7 linked regions of the Homo sapiens genome follow. The protein of the gene in region 5 purifies or fractionates together with the protein of the main gene of each other region. This does not show direct contact. Each region holds a gene or a part of one and is shown on either strand. Other genes may lie near its edges.

What was found.
Region 1: the proteins of KDM6B (region 5) and NIPBL purify together in Homo sapiens (affinity purification with mass spectrometry, with the first as the bait; one large-scale study listed by BioGRID). This does not show direct contact.
Region 2: the proteins of KDM6B (region 5) and RPIA purify together in Homo sapiens (affinity purification with mass spectrometry, with the first as the bait; one large-scale study listed by BioGRID). This does not show direct contact.
Region 3: the proteins of KDM6B (region 5) and SLFN13 purify together in Homo sapiens (affinity purification with mass spectrometry, with the first as the bait; one large-scale study listed by BioGRID). This does not show direct contact.
Region 4: the proteins of KDM6B (region 5) and GMPS purify together in Homo sapiens (affinity purification with mass spectrometry, with the first as the bait; one large-scale study listed by BioGRID). This does not show direct contact.
Region 6: the proteins of KDM6B (region 5) and USP9X purify together in Homo sapiens (affinity purification with mass spectrometry, with the first as the bait; one large-scale study listed by BioGRID). This does not show direct contact.
Region 7: the proteins of KDM6B (region 5) and REPS1 purify together in Homo sapiens (affinity purification with mass spectrometry, with the first as the bait; one large-scale study listed by BioGRID). This does not show direct contact.

Annotation. Positions count from the first base shown.
Region 1 is NC_000005.10:36,984,769-36,988,268, reverse strand, and holds part of NIPBL (nipped-B-like protein), read right to left. Parts: coding exon 1,968-3,500; intron 1-1,967. UniProt on the Homo sapiens protein: Plays an important role in the loading of the cohesin complex on to DNA. Forms a heterodimeric complex (also known as cohesin loading complex) with MAU2/SCC4 which mediates the loading of the cohesin complex onto chromatin.
Region 2 is NC_000002.12:88,747,173-88,750,672, forward strand, and holds part of RPIA (ribose-5-phosphate isomerase), read left to right. Parts: intron 1-2,808; coding exon 2,809-2,906; 3' UTR 2,907-3,500. UniProt on the Homo sapiens protein: Catalyzes the reversible conversion of ribose-5-phosphate to ribulose 5-phosphate and participates in the first step of the non-oxidative branch of the pentose phosphate pathway.
Region 3 is NC_000017.11:35,434,596-35,438,766, forward strand, and holds the end of SLFN13 (schlafen family member 13), read right to left. Parts: 3' UTR 501-4,171; downstream 1-500. UniProt on the Homo sapiens protein: Endoribonuclease that cleaves tRNAs and rRNAs. Cleaves tRNAs 11 nucleotides from the 3'-terminus at the acceptor stem. Does not act on tRNA(Sec).
Region 4 is NC_000003.12:155,908,650-155,912,149, reverse strand, and holds part of GMPS (GMP synthase [glutamine-hydrolyzing]), read right to left. Parts: intron 1,459-3,500; coding exon 1,265-1,458; intron 1,037-1,264; coding exon 871-1,036; intron 1-870. UniProt on the Homo sapiens protein: Catalyzes the conversion of xanthine monophosphate (XMP) to GMP in the presence of glutamine and ATP through an adenyl-XMP intermediate.
Region 5 is NC_000017.11:7,837,217-7,840,716, reverse strand, and holds part of KDM6B (lysine-specific demethylase 6B), read right to left. Parts: intron 812-3,500; 5' UTR 693-811; intron 1-692. UniProt on the Homo sapiens protein: Histone demethylase that specifically demethylates 'Lys-27' of histone H3, thereby playing a central role in histone code. Demethylates trimethylated and dimethylated H3 'Lys-27'.
Region 6 is NC_000023.11:41,214,445-41,217,944, forward strand, and holds part of USP9X (ubiquitin carboxyl-terminal hydrolase 9X), read left to right. Parts: intron 1-123; coding exon 124-265; intron 266-1,454; coding exon 1,455-2,208; intron 2,209-2,775; coding exon 2,776-2,899; intron 2,900-3,500.
Region 7 is NC_000006.12:138,978,254-138,981,753, forward strand, and holds part of REPS1 (ralBP1-associated Eps domain-containing protein 1), read right to left. Parts: intron 1-3,500. UniProt on the Homo sapiens protein: May coordinate the cellular actions of activated EGF receptors and Ral-GTPases.

The sequences.
Region 1 (3,500 bases), on a different chromosome or scaffold from region 5:
GTATATACATCTGCATTAAAAGTATACTATCAGAAACGCATTTTGGTGCTAAAAACATATTCATAGGCAATATTATTGCATGTGAAAAACCCAGGTGAAATAATATACCAATTACTAACTAAAAGCTATATTCACTTCTGGATGTTCTTTAAGGAGTTTTAAAAGACTCTTTGTTAGAACAGAGTTTAGAAAGCAAGGCTAGGGTAAGCTGAGAGGGGAGGGAGAGAAAGATGGTCCAGATCAAAGGAACAAGAGGGTACCACTTTCCATCTTTCACCTGACTCTTCTAAAATTGTATAGCCATACTCTTTAGTTTATAAATATAAGCTACTCCCAAACTTTCACTAAAAAATTTTAAAGAAAATTTTTACCTAAAAGAAAACAATTGTGGTGTTAACCCCCACATTCTACAACCTCTTTTATATTAACAAGTAACTCTGAAAAGATGCATTCAAGTTAAATAAAAAAGCCTACTTATTAATTAAGGCTGATGTCTTAACTGACTTTTGGTAAGTCTAATTGCCATAATTTAAAATTTAAAAGCTTCACTCAAAGAACACAAATATTAGCGACTCAGAAGGCAATCTTTTTTCATTATTGTAAGACAAAAGGAAATAAATTAACAGTGAAAAAATGAATGTTGACGAAGACCAAGCAAGAATAACAACAGATTAGCCACAAGTCATTCTTTGAATAAAGAGTTCTTTATAATATGTTTTCAAAGAGCTTTCTTGGTAGACAAGCTACAACAGCATGTTATGAAAAACAATAACCACACACTTTTTGTATCTCCTAATACACTGCAGTGCTATACAACTTTGTGATGATGCAAATGTTCTGTTTTGTCCAATATGGTAGCCAACAGCCACATGTGACTACTAATGAAATGAACTTCCAATTTTAGTTAACTTAAATTTAAATAGCCAAAAAAGGCAATGGTTACCCTCTTGGCCAATGCAATTCCAGATTTCATATACTTGGTTATATATAAGTATAAATCTAAATTCTTAATAATTCTCTTTCACAGAAGGAAAACTTAAATAAACTCTCAGTTCTATTGCCTTCACTACACCTCAGTATATTTAGACTGTATGGACACGGTGGCTCACGCCTGTAATCCCAGCACTTTGGGAGGCTGAGAGGAGAGGATCACTTGAGGCCAGGAGTTCGAAACCAGCCTGGTCAACAAAGCAAGACCCCATCTCTATTTAAAAATAAAAAAAGTTATTTTAAATACTTGTGTACAAAGGGATACAGAAGTATATCTTCTGCACAAATGGCCATTATCTTTTGGCACTTAAGACATTCTTCTCCCTTTGGAAATAATTTTACTCAAGTAACCAGAGAATTCAGAAACCATGCAAAAATAACACCAGTCCCCCGCCTCCCACAAACTTACAATTTAACCAAATTTAAAAAGTAAGTACCATTCCCTATTACCTTTGCATAAACAAGGACAAAAAGATATGTTTTAAAAATATAAAACATATTTAACTAACCATCTCCCCAACAAAATGAAAAATAACCTTTTATATAACTTTCTAAACTATACAAATTATTCATCAATAATTGGCTCAGACACAGGTCTGTAAGAATGTAGTATTGTAAGACATTTTTAAATAGAGAGTTTTTAAAGACAGCTATTTTAATACAACATTCACTTAAGCATATTTCAGAAATATAAGAAATAACTAAACAGCAAAATAACTTATCTCTGTGTAACCAAATAGCAGTAACATTCATAACTACCTTGAGTAGTGGGTGGGAAGAAAAAAACTGTGGGGAAAAAAAAATTCACTGGAAACTTTTTATCTATACTCCTGAAAAAAATTTCCTGTTGTTTGACATAAATGTTATATTTTCATGTAGTAGCTTTCTAATTTTTGTAAATTTCCTTTTTAAAACTTAGTAATCTTAACACTTAAAATCGATTATATTATAAATGACATCAGTAGAAGTATTCTTACCTTTATTTGACTTTGATGGTTTATTCTTGATAGGTTTAAGGGAACTTCTTGATTTGTCCTCTCTATCTTTAATAAGTTTCTGAACATCATCCAAAGACAGTTTTTGTAGCACAACTACAGGCTTAGCTCCTTTATTTAGATCTTCAACTAATCCTATTTTTTCTACTTTGTCTTTCGGCTCTCCTTTCATTTCCATTTTCTTTGTCTCCTGAGTAACATTGCCATCTTTATCCCTCTTGATTTTCGGAATGACAAAATTTTTCAACGCACCAGACCTGCCCCCCAACAAATAACTTGGAAATTCTGCCTTATTGTCAGGGTGTGCTTTATTAGTGTCTACTTTACTCTTGTTACCCTCTGTCCTTTTGTCATCTTTACTAGTTGGTGATTTAAAACCAAGTTTATCAGATCTTGATTTATTAGAATCTCCTTGTTTAACACGAGGACTGTCAGGTCTTGATTTTTGTTCCCCAGAAGATGGTCTTTCCCTTGAGTCCCCTGATTCATGCCTGTGTTTTCGTTCTAGTTTATCAGTTTTTGAACTATCAGATTTAATGCCATGTTCATTTCTACTAGAGGATCTCAATGTTTCTGGTCTTCGAACCCTAGACTGATCCCCTCGATGTCGCTCTGATTCACCCCTGTCATCTGATTTTTGTTTATTATCATGGTCACGTCTTAGTGACTCAGAAACAGATCGCCCATCAGGTCTCTGCTTTAAGGCTTCAGCTCGTTCTGATTTTAACCGAGGTGAGTCAGATTTAGTATCTTGTTTATGTTTAGACACTTCAGGTTTTTTCTCTGTAGATGGCTTTCCAGAATCCCTCCTATTGTCATGCCTGTGTTTTGGTGTTTCAGGTCGCCCTTCATTTTTTTGCTTTGGAGTTTCAGGGCGGCTCTCACCTTTTTGCTTTGGAGTTTCAGGCCTTCCATCACCCTTCTGTTTTGGGGTTTCAGGATGCCCATCACTCTTTTGTTTTGGAGTCTCAGGCCGGCTTTCACCCTTTTGCTTTGGGGTTTCAGGCCTTGATTTTGTTGTTTCTGATCTGCCATTATTTTGTTTGTTGTCATTTGGTTTTGTGTCAGACAGTCTATTTTCATTTTGTTTAGGCTCAACTATGGTGCTCTCGTTTTGTTTGCATTCAGTTGTTCTGCTCTCATTCTGTTTAAGTTCTTCTGTTTGGGTCTCAACTTTAGTTTCTAACTTATTTTCACTTGATTTTGTCTCCACCAATCGGTTTTCATTTGGTTTAGATTCTGCTAATCTACTTTCACTTTGTTTCATTTCACTCTTTGAAAGCTCAGGATCAGACTTTTTTTTAGGTGTCTCAGGATGGTTTTCTGGTGTAGATTTAAGACTTCCAACAATATCTTCCTGAAGAACAGAAACAGGTGCATCATTACATTGTTTGATTTCTTCAGGCTTTTTTATGGAGTCTGAATCCTGAGTTATAGAAGCCTGAGAGTCCACTCTTCCTGCCTGATGAAGATCAATGCTAACCATTAATGCTGGCCTTGACCCATTTCCCGTAG
Region 2 (3,500 bases), on a different chromosome or scaffold from region 5:
GTTCCCAGGGGGATTATGGCTGCCTCTTCTGCGTCATACAGGCTGCCAGGGAAGTAGGAGAAAGCCGGCAGTGACAGACCCCCACCCAGCTGCCACACAGCCAGCAAGGCCAGTTTCACTCCCGCCATGCCCCACCATGGTGAGCAGGGCTGAGATCTTGCCCCAGACTACAGGCCTCCCTACTGAGAAAGCAAGCAGGCCTCTCAGGCCTCGCCCCTCCCTGCCTGCCTGCACCTTCGGCTGTGGGTTCTTCATTTGTATCTGCACTTCCCATTTGTCCCCCACCGGATTCTGCTCAGGAAAATTTGTGCTCAGTTGAAATTATTACGAAGTTCAGCTAGAAGCTTCCTTCATCCTGTGGCCCCTCCCCAGTTCTGCTGGCTGCCTTTTTTTCCCGAAGGACCCCTGTGAGATAAAGCCAGGGATGGCTTCCCTGGGCTCAAGCTGGGGACTGGAAGTGTCTACAGGGCTCTTCCTGCTGCTGCTTCTACTTTTATAGTTTGCTCAGCTCTCTAAATCCATTTCAGCTCTAGGTAAGATTAAATCCGTCTCCTGTGATCTGGATTTTTCAGGTTCCCCGGTGGGGATGTATGTTCAGAGGCAGACTTTTCCCCCTCTCACACTTTGGGAACTCACAGTTTTTTGGCTGTCTTATGGAGTTTGCAGCAGCAAGCCACTTCTTTCAAAGGGTCTGTGAATTCTTTTGGTTTTCCTGGTATGTTCCTGTGGTGGTTCTTGGAGCAAAAGTTCACAATGTGTGTCTCCACACACTGTTCTGTCTGTCCAAGTGGGTGCTGCACATTAATCCTGTCTTCTATTGCCATTTTCCTGCAAGTTTTCATTGTATTTATCCTTTTGAATTTGTGTAGTTTAAAATTATGAGTTAAACAGTGGCAAGTCCTCTTTGCCACTTTTCCAACCAACTAGTTACCCTATCTGGAGGCAGCCAGTGTTACCAAAATTGTGTGGCCTTTGAGATAGACTTTCATAAACACACAAATTGCAACTCCTCCCGCCCCACCCCTTTTTACACTAGCGGTAGCCTGCTTTATACATGTTCTGTTTCCTGCCTTGCCTGTCTTGGAGATTATTACACATTGGCTTATAAAAGAGCTTCCTTGTTCCTTTTTTTTCTGAATACCTGCATGTATTCCACTTTACCTATGTAACATTATGACTTAACTGGATCACCACTAGTGGTCATTTATGTTTGCAGATTTTTGCTAGCAGGGAATCACTGGATGAAAGGATTAATGTGTCTGTGATTTTTGTTAGATGGTTTCAGATTGCCGTCTGTAGCTTGTATTCACTTAGCCTTCTACCAACAGTGTGTGCAGGTATCTGTTTCCCTGCATACCTGGTCCATTATACCTTTTCTCTTACAGTTAAAGTGTTATGTCATTGAAGTATGTGTGAGTATATGTAAATATTCTTGGTAAAGGTTGTGTGTAGTTGTTAATTTTCACTGCTGAATCATATTCCATCATCTGTATGTGTGTGAAAAAAAGTTTATATCTATTCTACTCTTTTAGTTTTTTCTCTTTCTTTCTTTTTTTGGAGACAGGATCTTGCTCTGTCACCCAGGCTGTAGTACAGTGGCATAATCATGGCTCACTGCAACCTCTGCTCCTGGGCTCAGGCGATTCTCCCACCTCAGCCTCCTGAGTAGCTGGGACTGCAGGCATGTGCCAGCATGCTTGGCTAATTTTTGTATTTTTTGTAGAGCTGCCATCTCTATGTTATGTTTCCCAGGCTGGTCTCGAACTCCTGGGCTCCATCAGCTCCATCTGGAGCTCCATTGAACTCCTGGGCTTCATTCCCAAAGTGCTGGGATTATAGGCATGAGCCACCATACCCAGCCTCTATTCTACTCTTGATGGACATTTGGGTATTATCAGTTTTTAGCTAATAGGAAAAGTGCCACTATCAACATCTTACACATGTCTTTTGATGACCAAATGTATGCCTAACAGTTGTATATCTAGGAGTAGAATTGCTGAGTGGTTAGGTGTGAATCCATCAGCTTGGAAGATGAACATTTCCAAAGTGCTTTTGCCAGCTCAGCTTTCACCATCAATGCGTATGAGTGTCTTTGCATCCCAGCAGAATTTCATTACACTGACTTCAGTGTGTGTGTAGTGATATCTTGTAATATTAATTTGTATTTCCTTTCAGTGAATGATTTTGAGCATCTTTTAAAATGTTTATTGGCCATTTTGGGTAGCTTCTTTTGTGAGGTACTTCTTCAAGTCTTTTGCCCATTTTTCTATGGGGATTCTGTCTTTTTCTTGATGATTTATAAATTGTTTATATTTTTGATATGAGTCCTTTGTCAGGTATATGCTTTGCAAATATCTCCTCCCATTCCGAGGAAATCTTTCAAGGCTGGTGGTATGATTGAAAATAACTGGTAGTGGGGCTCCTTGGCTGGAGTAGTCATGGAGGGTCTCTAGAGGATGACTTGCCATCTGATATGTCTGAAGGACAGAGCTGAGCCAGCCCCTTGAAGTGCTTGACAATGACTGGCTCAGGCAGAGGGAACAGCATGAACAAAGGCCTCAGGGCAGGACAAAGCTTAGCATGTTTGGGTACAGAAAGAAGGCCAAAGTGGGAGGGGAGAAAGAGGTGGCAAGAAGAAATTAAGATAATCAGAATCTCTTTTCATTGCTCTGTGGGAGAAAAAGGCTTTAGATTTGTCATTCGTCCAATGCTGTGTATGACAGTTGCTTCTAGTGACCCTGCAGTCTTTGAGTCTCTTTTTGCTTTGGGAGGCTGAAACAATGTTTCTTTCTGTCCTTTGTCCTGCAGGTGTGGTGGACACAGGCCTATTCATCAACATGGCTGAGAGAGTCTACTTTGGGATGCAGGATGGCTCAGTGAACATGAGGGAGAAGCCTTTCTGTTGACCCTGCAAGGAGCAGAGTGTGTTCACCTTGAGTCTCCAGCCCACAGCCAAGGTGGACGTACCTCTCCAGGAGCCTTTGCCTTAATGTATCTCTGCCTGGACAACTTGTGGTGGGGGGTGGGGGGAAGAGTGGGAGGGGGAGTTAAATCCAGTCTTATGAAGTATTGTTATTAAATGTCTTTTTAAAAAGAGAAATATAAACATATATTTTTACTATTAAAATATTCAGTTTTTTAAATGAAGTAGAACTTGAGTTCATGTTTTATATGAAATATTTACCAAAAAAAAAAAATGAGGTAAACTGTATTTAAAACCTTTGACTTGAGTCTGCTGGTAAAGCTTCTGAATATTGAGTTTGCTGAGAAATAAAAATCAAAACTTCTTTAAGCTGGTAAAGTGAGGGGCCCACCAGCAGTGATCTCCTGATGCCTTACTGGAAACTTTGTTTACTTGTCTGCTACCCTCTGATTTGTTTTTAGTTAGTTTTTATTGTGAGCACACATAGTACCTAGTTACATCTTAAGATCAGGTTTATAAAACTGTGGAGTGGAGCGGTATGGTATGGAATGACTTGGAATGTAAGCTGTCAGGGAGA
Region 3 (4,171 bases), about 28 Mb from region 5:
TAGCGCAGGCCGGGTGCGGTGGCTCACGTCTATAATCCCAGCACTTTGGGAGGCCGAAGTGGGTGGATTGCCTGAGCTCAGGAGTTGGAGACCAGCCAGGGCAATATGGTGAGAGGGCATAGTCGTGCGCGCCTTGGTAGTCCCAACTACTGTGGTGGACTGGGGAGGGTGTGGGGGCGCTGAGGCATGAGAATCGCTTGGATGGAGGCAGAGGTTGCAGTGAGCCAAGATCACACGGCTGCACTCCATCCTGAAAGACAGAGCAAGGGATTCTATCTCAAAAAAAGAAAAAGAAAAAAAAGAAAAGAAAAGAAAAAGAAAATGCTAGTGCAGGGATTTTCCCAGAGCACCAGGATGGCTTCCAAGGCAGAAACAAAAGACATTAAGAAGTTGTTCCCATGGGAATGTGTGTGGCAGGCATGACATATCAGATCAACTTGGAATAGAAAATGCATATCCCAAAAGGCCCCTCAAAAGTGAGCAGAGTAAAAACATTCACAGAACTTTTAAATTATGTTTTTATTAACTATTGAGTAGAAACAATATTTATAGAATACATATAAGGTATAAAGAACAAAAGTATGAACATCTGTGAACCCCTTACACGGCTAAAGAATATTAACAATAAGCCTCTCCTCAGAGGTAAAACACCATATCAAAGTTTACATTGAACCTTGTGTTGCTATTCTTTATAGTGTTTTGCGGGGAGGGGGTTGGGGGGTTGTTCTGGTTGTTTTTAGCCCACTGCAGCCTTCACCTCCTGGGCTCCAGTGATCCTCTCACCTCAGCCTCCCAGTAGCTGGGACTACAGGCACACACCACCAAACCCAGCTAATTTTTAAATTTTATTTCATTTTATTTTATTTTTTGTAGAGCCAGGATCTTGCTATGTTGCCAAGGCTTGTCTCTAACCCCTGGGCTCAAGTGATTCTCCTGCCTTGGCCTCTGGAAGTGCTGAGATTACAGGTGTGAGCCACCATGCTGGCTTGCTGTTTGTTCATGCTGTAAATTCCCTTTGTTGATTTCCAAAAGTGTTTTTATACTTCTAAGTTGCTGAGAGTCCTTATTATGAATGGATGTTGAACTTTATCAAAAGCTTTTTCCTCTATTCAGATGATCATGTGATTTTTCTCTTTTGAACTCTTAATCTGTGGTGAATTACACTGATTAATTTTTTTTTCTTGGAGACAGGGTCTCAAACTGGCACCCAGGCTAGAGTGCGGTGATGCAGTCACAGCTCAGTGCAGACTCAAACTTCTGGCCTGAAGGATCTTTCCTCCTTCAGCCTCCAGAAAGTCTGGGATTACAGGAGTGAGCCACCTCACTGGGCCTGATGATTGATTTTTTAACGCCAAAATCAACGTTGAATTCCTGACTTGAACCACCTTGGTCGTGGTGTATTATCACTTTTACAAATTGTTGGATTTTGTTTGCTAAAATTTTGTTTAGAATTTTTCATGTAGATATTTGAGTGATAATTGAGTGACCTGCAATTTTCCTTTCATACTTTACCTATCAGACTTGTTATCAAGATTATGCCAGCCTCATGAAATTAGTTAGGAACTGTTTCCTCTTTCTAGGAAAGCATTTGAATAAGACTGAAATTCTCTAGGACTGAAATTCTCTCCTCCTTAAACTTGCTTGTTAGAACCTGCTGTGACAATGGTTACAGAATTTCTGCTTTGATCCACGAGTTAAACACTTTTTTAATTCCAAAAGATATGAACATTTTTCTAGTTACCGTTTTATTACTAGTTTATAATGTATTTGCATGTGGGGTCAAAGAATGTGATCAGTATCAGTTCTCTGAACTCTTTGAATAATTACTTTTTAATTAGAAAAAAATCTCAAATATTATGCGTTCAGAAGCAAAAACACCCCCCCTCCACACACACACACACACACACTTTATTAATTACAAAAAGCAAATTGTAACTGCACAGTAGGGAAACCTGGCAGACGCCACTTTATCCAAATGATCAGAGTTAACATCATCAGGAATGGAACTAATCACTATCAAGTGCCTTCTAATACCGTGAACTGAGAACCGTAACAGCCCTTCTATGGAATTCATGCCAAAAATGCATAACCTGAATCTAATCATGAGAACACATGAAATGACCCAAAATCAGATACTCTGCAAAATAATAGGCCAGTCCTCTTCAATAGTGTCAAAGATATGACAAAGACAGATTAACATCTCCAGATTAAATGAGACTTAAAAGAAAGGAAAGCTCAATACAATGCATGATCTTAGATCAAATCCTGGACCAGAACTTTTTCTCTTTTGAGAAAAAAACATAAAGACACTTGAGGCACAACTGATATAATTCAATAAAGTCTACAGATTAGATAATAGTATCAGGGTTAATTTACTGATTTTGATGATGGTACTATAAATGTCCTTTTAGGAAACACCCACTGAAGTATTTAGTGGTAAATGGGAACCCTGTCCGCTACTTACTTTTGAATCTCAGGAAGAAAAATGGTAGAAGGAGGCACAGGGACAAGGCGAGAGAAGGCCATCAGGATCATCTGTGGTCAAAGGACTCTGGGCACACTGACATTTAATAACTAATTTTAAACTTTTGATTGTTTTATTATTATTTTGTTAGACATGGGGTCTTATTCTGTTGCCCAGGCTAGGATTCAGTGACACGATTATCGCTAACTACAGCCTTGAACTCCTGGAATCAAGCGATCCTCTCGCCTCGGCCTCTGGAATAGCTAGGACTGCAGGAGCACACCACCACACCCAGATAATTTTTTGTTGTCTTCTCGAGGGGGGGGTCATGCTATGCTGCCCAGGCTGGCCTCATATGATCCTCCCACCTCAGCCTCCTGCTAATATATAATTTAAATATTTGTCTTTCACTATGCTCAAGGCTTTACTAAGTTTTGTTAAAAGTAGGGCCAGGTGTTGACTGTTAATTCGTGAAACAAAAGATGTGACCGCTTTCCATGCTTGAGATTCAGAGCAGAAGAAGTTTAGGAAAGTCATTATGTCAAGCCAACTAGAAACTAGCAGAGACCTTGGTACAGCACTCCATAGCAAGAAGTGGCAGGAGACTACAAGGACAGATCTGTGAGCATTCCTGGAATTCTCAGAAATCTTAAAGGAAATAAGCTAGGTTTAAAAAAATTTTAAAAAGGAGGGCACTAAGTGGGGTATATAGGAACTTTCTGTACTATGCTTGCAACTTTTCTATATGTCTGAACTAAAATAAAAGGCTAATTTAAATTTTCAAAACATTTTGTTTCATTTTACAATGGCTGGATAGATTTTCAGATCTTTAATGAAGCAGGTCCTATATGACTAGAGCCAAATTACAGAGATAGGCAGGTACCCATCAAAACCCAATTAAGCCTGACACAGTGGCTCATGCCTATAATCCCAGCAATGGGAGGCTAAGGCAAGAGGATCACTTGAGCCCAGGAGTTCAGGGCTCTAGTGAACTATGATCACACCACTACCCTCCAGCCTGGGAAACACAGTGAGACCTTTTCTCTTTAAAAAAAAAAAAAAAAAAAATTTACAGTTAATCTTGCTTAATCTTTTACTGGCTCATTTTTGGCTGTATCATGGAGTTGCTGGCCTCAGTCTTCTCCTTTTCCTCCATTTAATCATTTATTTTACAGAACCTTTTTTTTCAGTTTAATGAAACACAAACTCTCAATTTTTTATTTAAAACAGAAATGCAATAAATATATAAGCTAAACATTTCCTCATCATATGGAAAAAGAAGAAAGCATCAGTAATCCTCTTTGGGCTGAACAAAAATTCATAAATATTTATATATTTTAAAATATGATACTGTTTCAAATATTACTAGGGCAATAAATCATATAGAGAGATTCAACCAGTCAGAATTAGACTTTTAAAGAATTACTCTCAAAGGCTGAAATAACTCCAAAGACCAGGGAGTTTACTAAGAACATTTACAAAGATAGCTTTTTGGTGCTGAGCTGTATCTCATTTAATGCAGCCAGAAAGAAAGAAGAAATATTTTTCTCCTTATTTTGCTGATCTGTCAGATTTTGCTCAAGTTAGAAGAGCCTACAATTTCAAGGCTAGACAACTGGAATTCCATGAGTTAACACAAATAGGAGAAAGACTGGCAGAAAAGTTCAAAACTTACAATATGGAGGGAAATCAGCCAAATAGGATTAC
Region 4 (3,500 bases), on a different chromosome or scaffold from region 5:
TCCAATTAATTCCATAATATGTACAATAACTTTTATCATTAAACTACTGACCTCATTTCATTATAACTATCAATTGCACCTTGTTTTTAAAAAGTATAAAAGGTATCTACAAAAGTAAATGTTATTAAGGACTAAGAAGTTTACTAGTGGCCCTTTAAAAAAAAAGTATAGAATCTTTACCTCTCCCACAATAAGCTTTTCTGTTTGCAAAATAATCTGTATACCCATACCTGAGGAGGGCTTGGGTAGCCTCGTACATAAATATCATTAAATAGAGTGGGAAAAGATAATTTCTTTTTTTTTTTTTTTTGAGATGGAGTTTCGCTCTTGTTGCCCAGGCTGGAGTGCAGTGGCATGATCTCTGCTTACTGCAGCCTCCACCTCCCAGGTTCAAGTGATTCTCCTGCCTCAGCCTCTCGAGTAGCTGGGATCACAGGCGCCCACCACCAAGACTGGCTAATTTTTTGTATTTTTAGTAGAGATGGGGTTTCATCATGTTGGCCAGGCTGATCTCAAAACTCCTGACCTCAGGTGATCCACCCACCTTGATCTCCCTAAGTGCTGGGATTATAGGCGTGAGCCACCGCGCCTGGCCAGGAAAAGATAATTTTAAAAGTGAATGACTAGAAGAGAACTGAACAGTAGCTAGAAAATGTTAATTTATCAATCTATGTATTAAATTAGCAGAATCAATAGTTTAAAAATTTATACTGAGACCTCTCTTACACCAGAGGTAATTGTAAAAATAAAAAACATTTTCAACCTTGAGCATACTGAGAAAACTGTAATTGTGCTCATTTAAACCATAAGACTAGATTTGATTAAACAAGTCCTAACATGTAAGTTAACTTTTCTGAGGTTCTTCAATACCTTTGACCTGAATTCCAAGCTTTTTGAGGGCCTCTTCAACAGACTGGCTTTCTCGTTTTCTCATAAAGCCATTATCAATGTGCACAGCAATGACTTGTTCTTGGTTCAAAGCACGATTTAGCAAAGCTGTACAAACTGTTGAGTCTACTCCACCACTGAGTAAAACCTACGGGGTAAAATGAAAAATCAAAATGAGCAAAACAAGCAAAAAGAAAATAAACACTATTGGCTTAAATCTTTATCTAAAAGTGCTATTTATACCAAAGATATGTATGGTAACTGGAAAAGCACTCTAAAACTGTAGAACATTTAAGGGCTGTGTTGAGGACTCTAACTCCTGGATTCCAATATTATTGATATAAATTTGTAGACTTCCAGATAATAATTTGCTTACCAAAACTTTTGACGTGCCTACTCTCTCTTTGATCTCTCGAATACACTCAAGTTCTCTGTTCTGCACGGTGAAGGTTCCACTGCATCCAGCTATATCATAAAGGAAATTCTTCAGTATTACTTTTCCATTTTCTGTAAGGCCAACTTCAGGGTGGAACTGTGCTCCATATAACTTTTTAGATTCATTTGCTATGCCTTTATAGAGAAAATAGTCACAAATTAAAATTTTTTCATGCTGAAAAGACTCAAGCAATAACCACAATTAATTTCTCACAATCTCTGCCTCTATGGTTTCATTTTTTTTTTTTTTTTTTTTTTGAGACAGAGTCTTGCTCTGTCGCTCAGGCTGGAGTGCAGTGGCATGATCTCGGCTCACTGCAACCTCTGCCTCCTGGGTTCAAGCAATTCTCATGCCTCAGGCTCCCAAGTAGCTGGCATTACAGGCGTGTGCCACCACGCCCAGCTGATTTTTTGTATTTCTAGTAGAGATAGGGTTTCACTATGTTGGCCTGGTGGCCTCAAACTCCTGGCCTCAAGTGATCCACCTGCCTCAGCCTCCCAAAGTGCTAGGATTACAGGCATGAGCCACTGCTCCCAGCCAATTTTATTTGTTTGTTTGTTTTTTGTTTTGTTTTGTTTTGAGACGGAGTCTCGCTCTGTTGCCCAGGCTGGAGTGCAGCGGTGCGATCTTGGCTCACTTGTCACCTCTGCCTTCCATGTCCAAACTATTCTTCTGCCTCAGCCTCCCGAGTAGCTGGAACAACAGGTGTGTGCCACCACGCTCGGCTTATTTCTTTTATATTTTTAGTAGAGACAGGGTTTCACCATATTGGCCAGGCTGGTCTTGATCTCCTGACCTTGTAATCCGCCCATCTCAGCCTCCCAAAGTGCTGGGATTACAGGCGTGAGCCACTGCGCCCGGCCTATTTTATTTTATTTTTTAGACAGGGTATTTACTGCTCTGTCACCCAGGCTGGAGTGCAGAGGTGTAATCATAGCTCACTATAGTCTCGATCTCCTGGGCTCAAGTGATCCTTCCACCTCAGCCTCCTGAGTAGCTGGAACAACAGGTGCATGCCACCACACTCAGCTAATTTTTAAATATTTTGAAGAGATGGGGTTTTATCTTGTTGCCTGTTGAACTCCTGGGCTCAAGTAATCCTCCTGCCTCGGCCTCCCAAAGTGCTGGGATTACAGGTGTGCGCCACTGCACCCAGCCTTCTTCCTCTATAAATGTTAAAACTGGTATGTCTCAGTAGATTTTTAGCTATAGGAATAGGAAATACATAACAAAGACAAAAACTACATTGCTATAACCTTTCTTTATAAAGGTCTTTCTTGACACAGCAATTAATGAGGTATAGGACGTACATTAAGTCCCACATAGAGATTGTTTCACAGTATTCTCACCTCTCCACCCAAGTTACTTCAGTTGCCTTGTCTATCTAGTGCATTGATAATTCAATTTTGGTTCTCAGTTGCACATGGCTTTCAAATGCATTGTACAGCTACCAAGTTCTTATATTAAAAGAATCTCATATATTAGACTTGTCAGAATATACTGTTTCTTTCTTGACTACTATTAACCACAAAAATATATTCAACTACTTGACAAATGTGTTTCTGGCAAATATTACCTATGGGGCAATAGATGTTAGGCTAGGTATTTTACATGTGCATGTGTTACTCCTATTTTATGGCTCTGAGATATCAAGAAACTTGTATGAACTCTCAGGTAATTAAGTAACTAAATCAGGCCTGACAGGCTCCCAAACTCATACTCATTCTACTATACCACAGTACTTCACACTTTATTTGGCTCTCAGCATACCACTCTCTTGGTTCACTTATTTTACTGTCTATTCCTTCTGAATCTCTTTGCTGGTTCCTCTTCATCTTGCCCACCTCTACACATGGAAGTTACTCAGTCCTCAGCCCTTAAATCTCTTTTCTAAATATTCTAAGAGATCTCATACTCTCATCACCTTAAAATTCTGTCTGTATGCTGGTAAACCCCCAAATTTATACCTCCAGCCCAGTTTTCTCCTCTAAAGTCCAGGCTCATATATACAACTGCCTACTCAGCACCTTTGTTTTGATGTTTAATAAACCATCTTGAATTTAATATGCAAACTCAAACTCCTGAGGTCTTTCCAATCAGGTAAATAGAAACATCTTCCTTTTGGTTCCTCAGGCAAAAAAACTTGGGAGCTAAAACTTGATTCTACTTTTTCTTC
Region 5 (3,500 bases):
GAAACCCCATATGTAATGAGGAAGAACAACACAGAGAGAACTTAAGCCCCTGGCTTAGGGATTATCTTCCCTTTTCTCCTACAAAGGAATGGGAAATAAAGCAGGGCCTCAGGCAGAGAACTGACAGAAGGAGAGAGGGAAGCAGAAGAGTAAGACTTAGGTATGGGGGCAAATGCTATAGTGCAGTGGGGAGAGAATGGGACTGAAAGAGATCTGGAAGGAAAGGTGAAATGCCAAGACTGCTGTGGCTGGCAGTGATCTCCACTATCTCCCCAAATAAATTCTGAACACCCTCCAAAAGCCAGGGTGTTCAACAACTCCTATAGGGACAAAGCTGTTTCCCTACCAAGAAAAAATTCCTCCAGGGTAGCTCATATCCACTTTTCAGCTTGCAAACTCCCTCTTCATTTCAATAAGCAACTGAGTTGTAGCACTAGGGAGATAGTGGGGAAAAGATTTTTTGGTAGTAGTGGAGAGGCTGGTGAAGTACAGGGCTGAACCATTTATAGGAGATAGAAGGGAGGTCCATAAACCAGGAGGGCTGAACCACTCAAGCACCACATGGTGGGGTGCTTAGAATTGGACTGGACCATTCTGAAGAGTGGGCATGATCCAGATCATACCGAGCATCTCCAACCATGTGGTGCAGAGTTAGACTGCTGAGGAGAGAGGGTCACTCAGACAGGACTTACCAGATGGAGTTTGGTGTGCCCTGTCTCATTGGAACCACCACCCCAGCAGTGGGGTACAACAGACCACAGTGGGTGGGGTGGGCAGTGCTACGGGGCTGGCATGTTGCCCTGGGGGGAACCTAAAAGAAAAAAGTCAGTTAGAGGTGGGGGTCTTCCAGGATGGAGAATTTTCCTGGGCTCCCTGCCCCCCTCATTAAGGAGAAACCTGGCTCTGGTGGTCAGATATGATGGGAGAATCTTGTTTCCATGGCAACCAGAAAAAGCCATCCCCAAAGTGGTCATCCAACCTTCCCCTTTGGGAAGCAGGCTCGATCAGTTGGTAAGGGGCCATGATATGGCATCTGAGTAAGTCTACAGTAGACCCCAAACCCGTGATCCCTCTTCTGACAGGACGCTCCTGCTGAGACTCCCTGGCCTGAGTCGCCCCAGCTGCCCTGACATCTGTACACAAGCCAGCCTGAGTCCTAGCACCAGGGCATGCAGACCCTCTTCCTTCAGCTCTGTGTCCTCTCCAACCTTATCAAGACACCAGACAGTCAACCCCACCCTCTGGACTCTGCCCCCTCTTCTTCCCCCAGGCGGGTGCAGGCAGGTCTTGGCTAGCAGCACAGGTAGCCAGACTAGATGAACGGGCCCAACAGGGAGGGGCCATCCTCCCCTGCAAGAACTCTGACTCTGGGCCTAAGCCTGGAAGTAGCCTCCACTGCAAGCCTCCCCTCCCTGCCAACCCCAAGGCAATATCCTGTTTCCCCATCACCTCCTTCCTCTTATGTGGCCTAAGAAGGTGATACAGGCCCACTCCCTTCCCAACCCTCATAGACAAGAAGCTAGGTCTTTTAGCATAAGTCCAAGGCCAAGAATCAGGTGTCCATCAGGGGTCAGAGCTAAGTTGGCCCTCACCTCAGACTCGCTCCTCAGGGACCTATGTTTTCTGCTCCCTTAATCATAGTTCTCTGCCCTTATGGACCCAAACACTTGGGGTCCCAATCTAATCTCTATATTCCCTAGCCTTCCGGCCCCCATCCTTCCCCTTGCCTCAGAGACTCAGGCCTCTAGCCCCCAGTCTCCATGATGCAATGTTCCGCAAGCTTCTGTGGCTGCTGATGACACTGCCCCCAGGGAGGTGCTATTTGTGACCCACCAAGGCCTCCTTCCTAAGCCAGGGTAGTGGTCAGCTGTAGGTGGTAGAGGTCAGGCAGGCAAGGCCCTTCTGCTCGGGAAGGGAGCTTCAGGCTAGAACTCTCCAGGACAGGGAGGCTCATAACCTGGGAGCAGAGAGTGTGTATCTATAGTCTGTGGCATCTGTGTTCTGCGGTTGTGCTGGGGGGAGGGACTAGGAAAGGGCTAGTCGAGAGCAGAGTGGGCAGACTTTAGGACAGACCAAGAGGAGGAGTGAGGGGGAAGCCTAGGGGGTCAGAGGGTGTGTGAGGGGTGTCTGGACAACAGAGTGGGGGAGGGGCTAACAGCCATTTAAAGGGCCAGCCCCAGAGCTTTAATCCCTCACCAGCCCTGGCCCCAAGCCGGAGGCTGTAATTCATCTGTCCAACAGCTGGGGTGTGTGTGTTTGTGTGTGTGTGGGGGGGGGGGCTTCCTCCCCCTTCTATTCCCTCCCTCCTCCTCCCCGTCCCTGAGTCCCGGAGTCAAACAAAGAACTGTAGCAGGCTCTCCCCAACCCCCTCCCTCCTCCTCCTCCTCCTCCTCCACCTCCTCCTCCCCTCCCTCCCTCCCCACCAGCAGGCTCCCTCCTCCTCCCTTCCGGTCTCTTCCTTTAACTACCCGCCCCCCCAGCCCCCAGCACTAGTCTCTCTCCACCCACCCACCCCAACCTTTTACACACCCCTCAGCCTAGCCCTGTCCCCACTAGAGAAACTGTGGAGTCCCTCTGCAAAACGAAAGGCTCCAGAGATCAACACGGGAGGGGGCTGGGGTCTTGCTTCAAAATCAAGAACCATAATACAATTATTTTATTTTCAAGGCCCACGGAATAGTCTTAGCTATTTCTTGTCCAAGAGAAAAAAAAATAATCCTAAAGAAAGCAATACAAATCTGCCTAAAGCCTTCATCAAATAAAATGCACAAAGCAGTTGAAGCTAATCCCCAGCCCCCTAACCCCAATCTCCAAATTAACACAAACTATCCACTACCCCTTAACAAACTCCTACGGTTACCGCTGGTTTGGAGCAGACCCACAGCAATAATAATAAACTAGTAACTAACACCATTTAATAATAAAAGTATTTCATAACAACAAGCACTCATTCTGTGTTCATTCTGTGCCAGGCACTGTGCTAAGTGATTTGCATAAATTATCTCATTTTTTTCCTCCCAGCGGCCTTCAAGGTAGGTGTTGATATTTAAATGTTCAAGATTAACATACGAGGCTCAGAGAGGTTCTGACCTCTCCAAGTCCTAGTAGCCACTAAGTGACAGAGCTAGAATTAGAATCCAGGTCTGATCTGACAGCCCAAGCTCTAAGGTACATAAAAGCACAAACCGATTCATTCCAATACCATCACCAACCCTGGGACTTAATAGAGAAGAACAACCATAGCAATCAACTGAGTCCCCCTCCACCAAGTGAGAGGCTACAAACCGATTCACCCGCATACACACAATAAAGACCCTGACTTTTCAGCCTAATACTGTTTCTTGACCCTTTTCCTTTCATTGTTTGCAGATGGGGGTGTGCCATTATGGGGATTTCAGGGATAAGCTGGTGTGTAGTGAACCCCCCCCCATACTACACACAACTCTTCCGTCTTTCAACCACTCCCACTTCAAATCAATCTGGGGAAGGGGGCAATAGGA
Region 6 (3,500 bases), on a different chromosome or scaffold from region 5:
GGACATGTACCCTAGAACTTAAAGTATAATTTAAAAAAAAAAGGCAAATGTAGTTTACATTAAGTCCATAACTAAAATGTTTACAAAACTAAGGGATAAATCCTTTTTTTAAATCGTTTTTAGGTACGAATGTGAAGAATCTTTTACGACCCTAAACGTAGACATTAGAAATCACCAAAATCTTCTTGATTCTTTGGAACAGTATGTCAAAGGAGATTTACTAGAAGGTGCAAATGCATATCATTGTGAAAAATGCAATAAAAAGGTACGGGCTGTCCAGTTTTGTTTAATTTTGATTACATTTAATGGATTTAGAAGAAATTGGTTTTTTTGGTTCATCCTCACAAGTCACCCTATTTTTATTTTCTCCTACTTTGGTATAGTGGTAGCAGAGAAGTAGTCAATATGATAACTAATAGAAGGTTTGGCAAGGAAGGAAAAAAAGTAGTGCCAAAGGGGCTAGGTAAATAAGATAAAAATAGGTAAATAAGAGTGAATAATTTTAAAAGTCATAACGTGATAGCACATTCTCTTATATAAGTTACACAGACACTTTCCATCTCTACCGAGAAACAAATTGCCATTGAACCCCTCAAAGATACAGAGCTGATAGAGGAAAACATTTCTCCTGTCATGTCCAGGATTACTTGTCAAGACCAAAACATTTGCTGAAACCATTAATTACTTTATTGAACCACATAAGATTTCTTTTAGACTAGTCAAGTGGCCCATAAGATTTCTTTTATCACCTATGTTATAAAACCATTTATTTTGGAAACTTATTAGCAGTTCTTTGAGAGAGATGATTCACACGCATTATAGTAATGAATAAGGTGTATCTTTGGGAGCTCCCAAACCCTTTCACCCTCAAGTCACTTGTGTTGTTTTGGCCTTATGCACCACTTAGAGAAGTCCTGAAGTTTAAAGATTGAGATTGTGGGCTGTAAAGCCATACTGCCTGCCACCTGCAGCTCCTGAGACCTGAGGCAAGTTACTTGACCTCTCTGTGATTACTAGTTTTCATCTTTTAAGGTTCAGTAGTACACACTTGAGAAGGTTGTAAGGATTCGGTATGTTTTTACTTGTGCGGCACTTAGTATATATTACCTGGCATCTGAATTACCCAACAAATATTAGCTACTCTTATTGTTATTGTAGTTCTTTGGTTTGTGCATAGGAAACCACCTTCGTGGGAACAACAGTAAACATCAAACAGGTAATAATGGCTAGATAACAATGACAGAAACCAGTCAACAATTTACCATTTGCATATTATTAATTTCAGCATTTAAATCAGCTGATAGGATTATCTTGATTATGCTCATTGTCATGTATTTGTTTATACTTAAAAATTCAGATAAGTCTTAATATCATTTAAAAGTTTGCTTGGGGTTTTTTTTTTTTTCCTGTGGATTTTAATAGAACATCTGGTAACTTTGTCTTGTTTATTTTAGGTTGATACCGTAAAGCGCTTGCTGATTAAAAAATTACCTCCTGTTCTTGCTATACAACTAAAGCGATTTGACTATGACTGGGAAAGAGAATGTGCAATCAAGTTCAATGATTATTTTGAATTTCCTCGAGAGCTGGACATGGAACCTTACACAGTTGCAGGTGTCGCAAAGCTGGAAGGGGATAATGTAAACCCAGAGAGTCAGTTGATACAACAGAGTGAGCAGTCTGAAAGTGAGACAGCAGGAAGCACAAAATACAGACTTGTGGGTGTGCTCGTACACAGTGGTCAAGCGAGTGGGGGGCATTATTATTCTTACATCATCCAAAGGAATGGTGGAGATGGTGAGAGAAATCGCTGGTATAAATTTGATGATGGTGATGTAACAGAATGTAAAATGGATGATGACGAAGAAATGAAAAACCAGTGTTTTGGTGGAGAGTACATGGGAGAAGTGTTTGATCACATGATGAAGCGTATGTCATACAGGCGCCAGAAAAGGTGGTGGAATGCTTATATACTTTTTTATGAACGAATGGACACAATAGACCAAGATGATGAGTTGATAAGATATATATCAGAGCTTGCTATCACCACCAGACCTCATCAGATTATTATGCCATCAGCCATTGAGAGAAGTGTACGGAAACAGAACGTACAATTCATGCATAACCGAATGCAGTACAGTATGGAGTATTTTCAGTTTATGAAAAAACTGCTTACATGTAATGGCGTTTACTTAAACCCTCCTCCCGGTGAGTATCAAGAGAGTTTAGCTTCTTAGTAATAAAGAATAATTTATAGTAGGCGTCAACATGTTTAAGTTCATAAAATTAATGTTTTCACTTTAAATGAGTCTAATTTGCTGGGTGTGGTGGTTCACGCCTGTAATCCCAGCACTTTGGGAGGCCGAGGTAGGTGGATCACCTGAGGTCAAGAGTTCAATACCAGCCTGACCAACATGGTGAAACCCCATCTCTACTAAAAATATAAAAATTAGCCAGGCATGGTGGCATGCACCTGTAGTCCCAGCTACTCCCTGTAGTCCCAGCTACTCCGGAGGCTGAGGCAGGAGAATCGCTTGAACCTGGGAGGTGGAGGTTGCAGTGACCCAAATTGATGGCCACTGCACTCCAGCCTGGGTGACAGTGAGTCTCCATCTCAAAAAAATAAAATAAAAAAATAAATGGGTCTAAATTAAAGTAGCCTGAGAAGGGTTCTTAACAAATTTAGGACTTCTCAAAATTAATGGAAACACAGACTTGTTTGAAAATGGGGTTGGAAAATAAAAATGTGTTTTTATATCTGCATTTTATTTATAGGGCAAGATCACCTGTTGCCTGAAGCAGAAGAAATCACTATGATCAGTATTCAACTTGCTGCTAGGTTCCTCTTTACTACAGGATTTCACACAAAGAAAGTAGTCCGTGGCTCTGCCAGTGATTGGTACATTGCTTTGGATTTTCATTCCTATTATACTAATGTTTGGTTTGCTTCTTTAATAGATTGCTTTATGTTTTTCTAAACCAAGAGAATTTTGTTTGAAGTTTGGAATATAGAATAAAAACTCTGGGTCACAATAGAGAAATCATATTAAAATAGTTACTTAGTCTAAACATGGCCTTTTGTTATTCAGAAGCTGACTTCTGCTTCTATTACCTTGTATCATATCTTTGACATCCCTGCACCAAAGACTACAAGCTGAGACTGGGGGACAGTGACTCACACCTGTAATGCCAGCACTTTGGGAAGCCAGGGTGGGAGGATTGCTTGAGCTCGGGAGTTCAGGACCAGCCTAGGCAACATAGTGAGACCCCCATCTCTTCAAAGAAGATTTTAAAAATTACCCAAGTATGGTGGCGCACACCTGTAATCCCAGCTACTCGGAAGGCTGAGGTGGGAGGATCGCTGGAGCCTGGGAGGTTGAAGCTGCAGTGAGCCATGACTGTGCCACTGCACTCCAGCCTGGGCAGCAGAGCAAGACCCTGTCTCAAACAAAACCAAAGATTACAAGATGAGACTGAAAAGTGTAAGCTACTTATGAAAT
Region 7 (3,500 bases), on a different chromosome or scaffold from region 5:
ATATTTAATAAAGCCCAATTATTTGTTTCTTTTCCTTTTCTTTTTTTTTTTTTGAGACAGGGTCTGGCTCTGTTGCCCAGGCTGGAGTCCATTGGCGCAATCTCGGGTCTCTCTGACCTCTGCCTCCCTGACCTCTGCCTCCCAGGCTTAAACCATCCTCCTGCCTCAGCCTCCCAAGTAGCTGGGACCACAGGTGCACACCACTATACCCAGCTAATTTATTTTATCTTTTTTTTTTACAGGCAGGGGTCTCCCTATGTTGCCCAGACTGGTCTCAAACTCCCGGGCTCAAGTGATCTGCCCGCCTCAACCTCACAAAGTGCTAGGATTACAGGCATAAGTCACTGTGCCCAGCCCTGTTTTGTAGTTTTAAATACAAAAATCTTGGTGACTCTTTTCTTAAGTTTATTCCCAAGTATGTTAGGCCTCTTTGAAGCTAATGTGAATGTATTTTTTTCTTACTTTCATATTAAGATTTTATGTTACTACTACACTGTTAATCCTGCCTCAGTTTGTAGAAAACAAATAAAAGCCATTAGGCCAGAACATCCTCCCACTAAATCTATATTCCACCCACTAAATCTATATTCCTACTTGCGTCTGTAACCATGTTGTTCTTTCTTCCCCACTGTTAAAACTGAGGAAGTGGCCGGGCACGGTGGCTCATGCCTGTAATCCCAGCACTTTGGGAGGCCAAGGCAGGCAGATCACGAGATCAGCAGTTCGAGACCAGCCTGGCCAACATGGTGAAACCCTGTCTCTACTAAGAAGACAAAAATCAGCCAGGCGTGGTGGTAGGCACCTGTAATCCCAGCAACTCTGATGGCTGAGGCAGGAGAATCGCTTCAACCCGGGAGGCGGAGGTTGCAGTGAGCCAAGACCAGGCCATTGCACTCCAGCCTGGGCGACAGAGCGAGAATCCATCACAAAAAAAAAAAAAAAAACAAAAAAAAAAAACTGAAGAAGTATCCCCTTCCTATCAAAGGACTCTGTGCAGTCAGGATCCTGACCACTCCTGCTTTCTCAAGGACTTCTCATCTCCCTTATCTTAGCAATCCTAACAACTAAAATCATTCTGCAGAATTTCTCACACTCAAAAAGAAACAAACAAAAAGATTTCCTTTATATCCTCATACATCTCTAGCTTCTACCCTGTATCTATTCCCTTTCATAGGTAAACTTCTTTAAAAGCTATCTATACACCCTGTCTCTAGTTCCTCAGCCATCATTTATCCCTCAAATCACTCAAATCTGGCATCCATCTACACTAGTCCATGAAACTGGCTCACTGAAGTTACTAATAACTTCCAGGTTGCCAAATCCAATGGCCACATTCCTGCCCACATGTTCTCAGCCTCTCAGTGAAATTCAATACAGCTGACTACCCACCCCCTTGAAATACTTGCATTATTTGGCATCCACGACATGATAATACTATATATTACACATTCCCAATTTGTACCACTCTGATTGTGTGCTTCCTAGCGTCCTTCCAAGAAGCCTTCCAGTTTACCCAACTTAGAAATGTTCAGCATTCCTCAGGATTCCAGTTCTAGTCAATCTTTCTCTCTTCTTTATAATCTTTTCTTCAATTATTTCATTACCTTAAGTATCACTAACATAGTGACAATCTTCAAACTGACATCTCTAAGCCAAGTATCTCTGAATTCCTCAAGATGTATAGATCTCTCTAACAGGCCTACTTGACAATCTTACAGGCTTCTGAGAACTAAGATAGACAAAAGGGGAACTGCTGAATTCACCCTTACCTCTCCCACGAAACAATCCCCCCCAAAATCCACTCCTCTTCCAACCATCCAATAGTGGCAACTTCCAGCAACATCCTTGAGTTCTTTCCCCTCCCTTATGTTCCATATCCAACCCTATTTATGCCTTCGTATTTCTACCACCTAAAAAATTCTCACAGATGTCCACTGCTCTCTATCCTACTGCCACCTCGCTAATCTAAGCCATTGCTGTCTGCTGCCTGGACTGTTGCATATCCACTAGCGTATCTGCTTCCACTTGCCCCCAGTATTCTTTTTGCTCATACAGCAGTCAGCATGATCTTTTAAAATATAATTCAGATGATGCTACACCCCCGAATAAAAACTTTTAGTATATTTCCACTAAAATCCAAATTCCTTATCACTGAGTACAAGGGCCTGCCTTATGCAGTCCCTGCCATTCTCCCCTCTTGTCCACAGTTTCAGTTCCTTAAACACACTGTGCTCTTCACAGCCTCAGGCCCTTCCCAGTTCTCTCTATATGAAACACCTTATTCTCCCTCCCCTGACCCCCCATCCAGGCATCCTCTAAGGGGCCTTCCCTTACACCTAAGTAGGTCCCCACTACCTCCTCTGATTCTACCACCCAATGATTCTCTATTATTGTACACAGTTCTTTTTTCCTTTTTTTTTTGTGGGTGGGGCGGGGGGGGGGGGGAACGGAGACTTGCTCTGTCACCCAGGCTGGAGTGCAATGACACTACTATGTTTACTATGTCTCATTGCAGCCTCAACTTCCCAGGCTCAAGTGATCCTCCTGCCTCTGCCTCTCAAGTAGCTGGGACTACAGGTGCAGGCCACCACGCCTGGCCAGTTCTTTTTCTTTTCGACATTGGCACAAGTCAGAGAAGATGTCTTGATCCTTCACCACTGCATGTATACCCCCAATACAAAGAACAGCCACAAAGAAGTCTTTGTTGAAAGTATTTAAAACTGATTTAAGACAGAAGTGTTTAGCATTTCACAGGTCAGCCTGCTCTTCCTTAAAACTGAATTAATGTAGAAGTCCATAAGATGAGCTTGACTCAATTAGGGGAAGGCTGGAAATCACAAATTAAGTGCAAAATTCTGTGGAACTATGTTTTCTAAGCAGATGTCCAGTGCGTGCAGCAGAATCTCAACGGAATCAACAGCCCAAAAGAGACAGACTAATAAATTCTGTCTTCATTATTTAATGAGACAGACCCCAAATTCAACACCTGGCTAATTCTTGAAACAAAATGCAGAAGAGATGTAGTATTCTTAATTTTAAAAAGCCTAAGTCTTAGAATTTATCAAATCTCAATGAAATCTGGTATACAGTTTAACTTCCATTAGACAAATTTCTTACACAGAGGGAAAAGATGAGTGAAGATGCATCTATAATAGGAAAGGCTACAGAAAATAAAACCTATATAAGGGAAAACATCAGAAATGACAAGTCTTATCACCCATTTCAAATTCTCACGACCTTGAAGAACTAAGCACCCATGGATTTATGACCCTTTCATCAGTTTCCTCTTGTATATATCTCCTCTTTGTATTCCTCAAAGAATGTCAAATAATCCTGTTCCAGTGTCAAGATAGTGGAGCAACTAACCACAAGACTTTGTGCTACTTTTAAAGGGGTGTGGCTGGAATAGATTAGCCGCTCCTACACAAAGATACTCTCATTTGAGTCAGAAATCATGAAAACCCAATCCCATAGCTATATCAGACATTCTGTGATTTGTT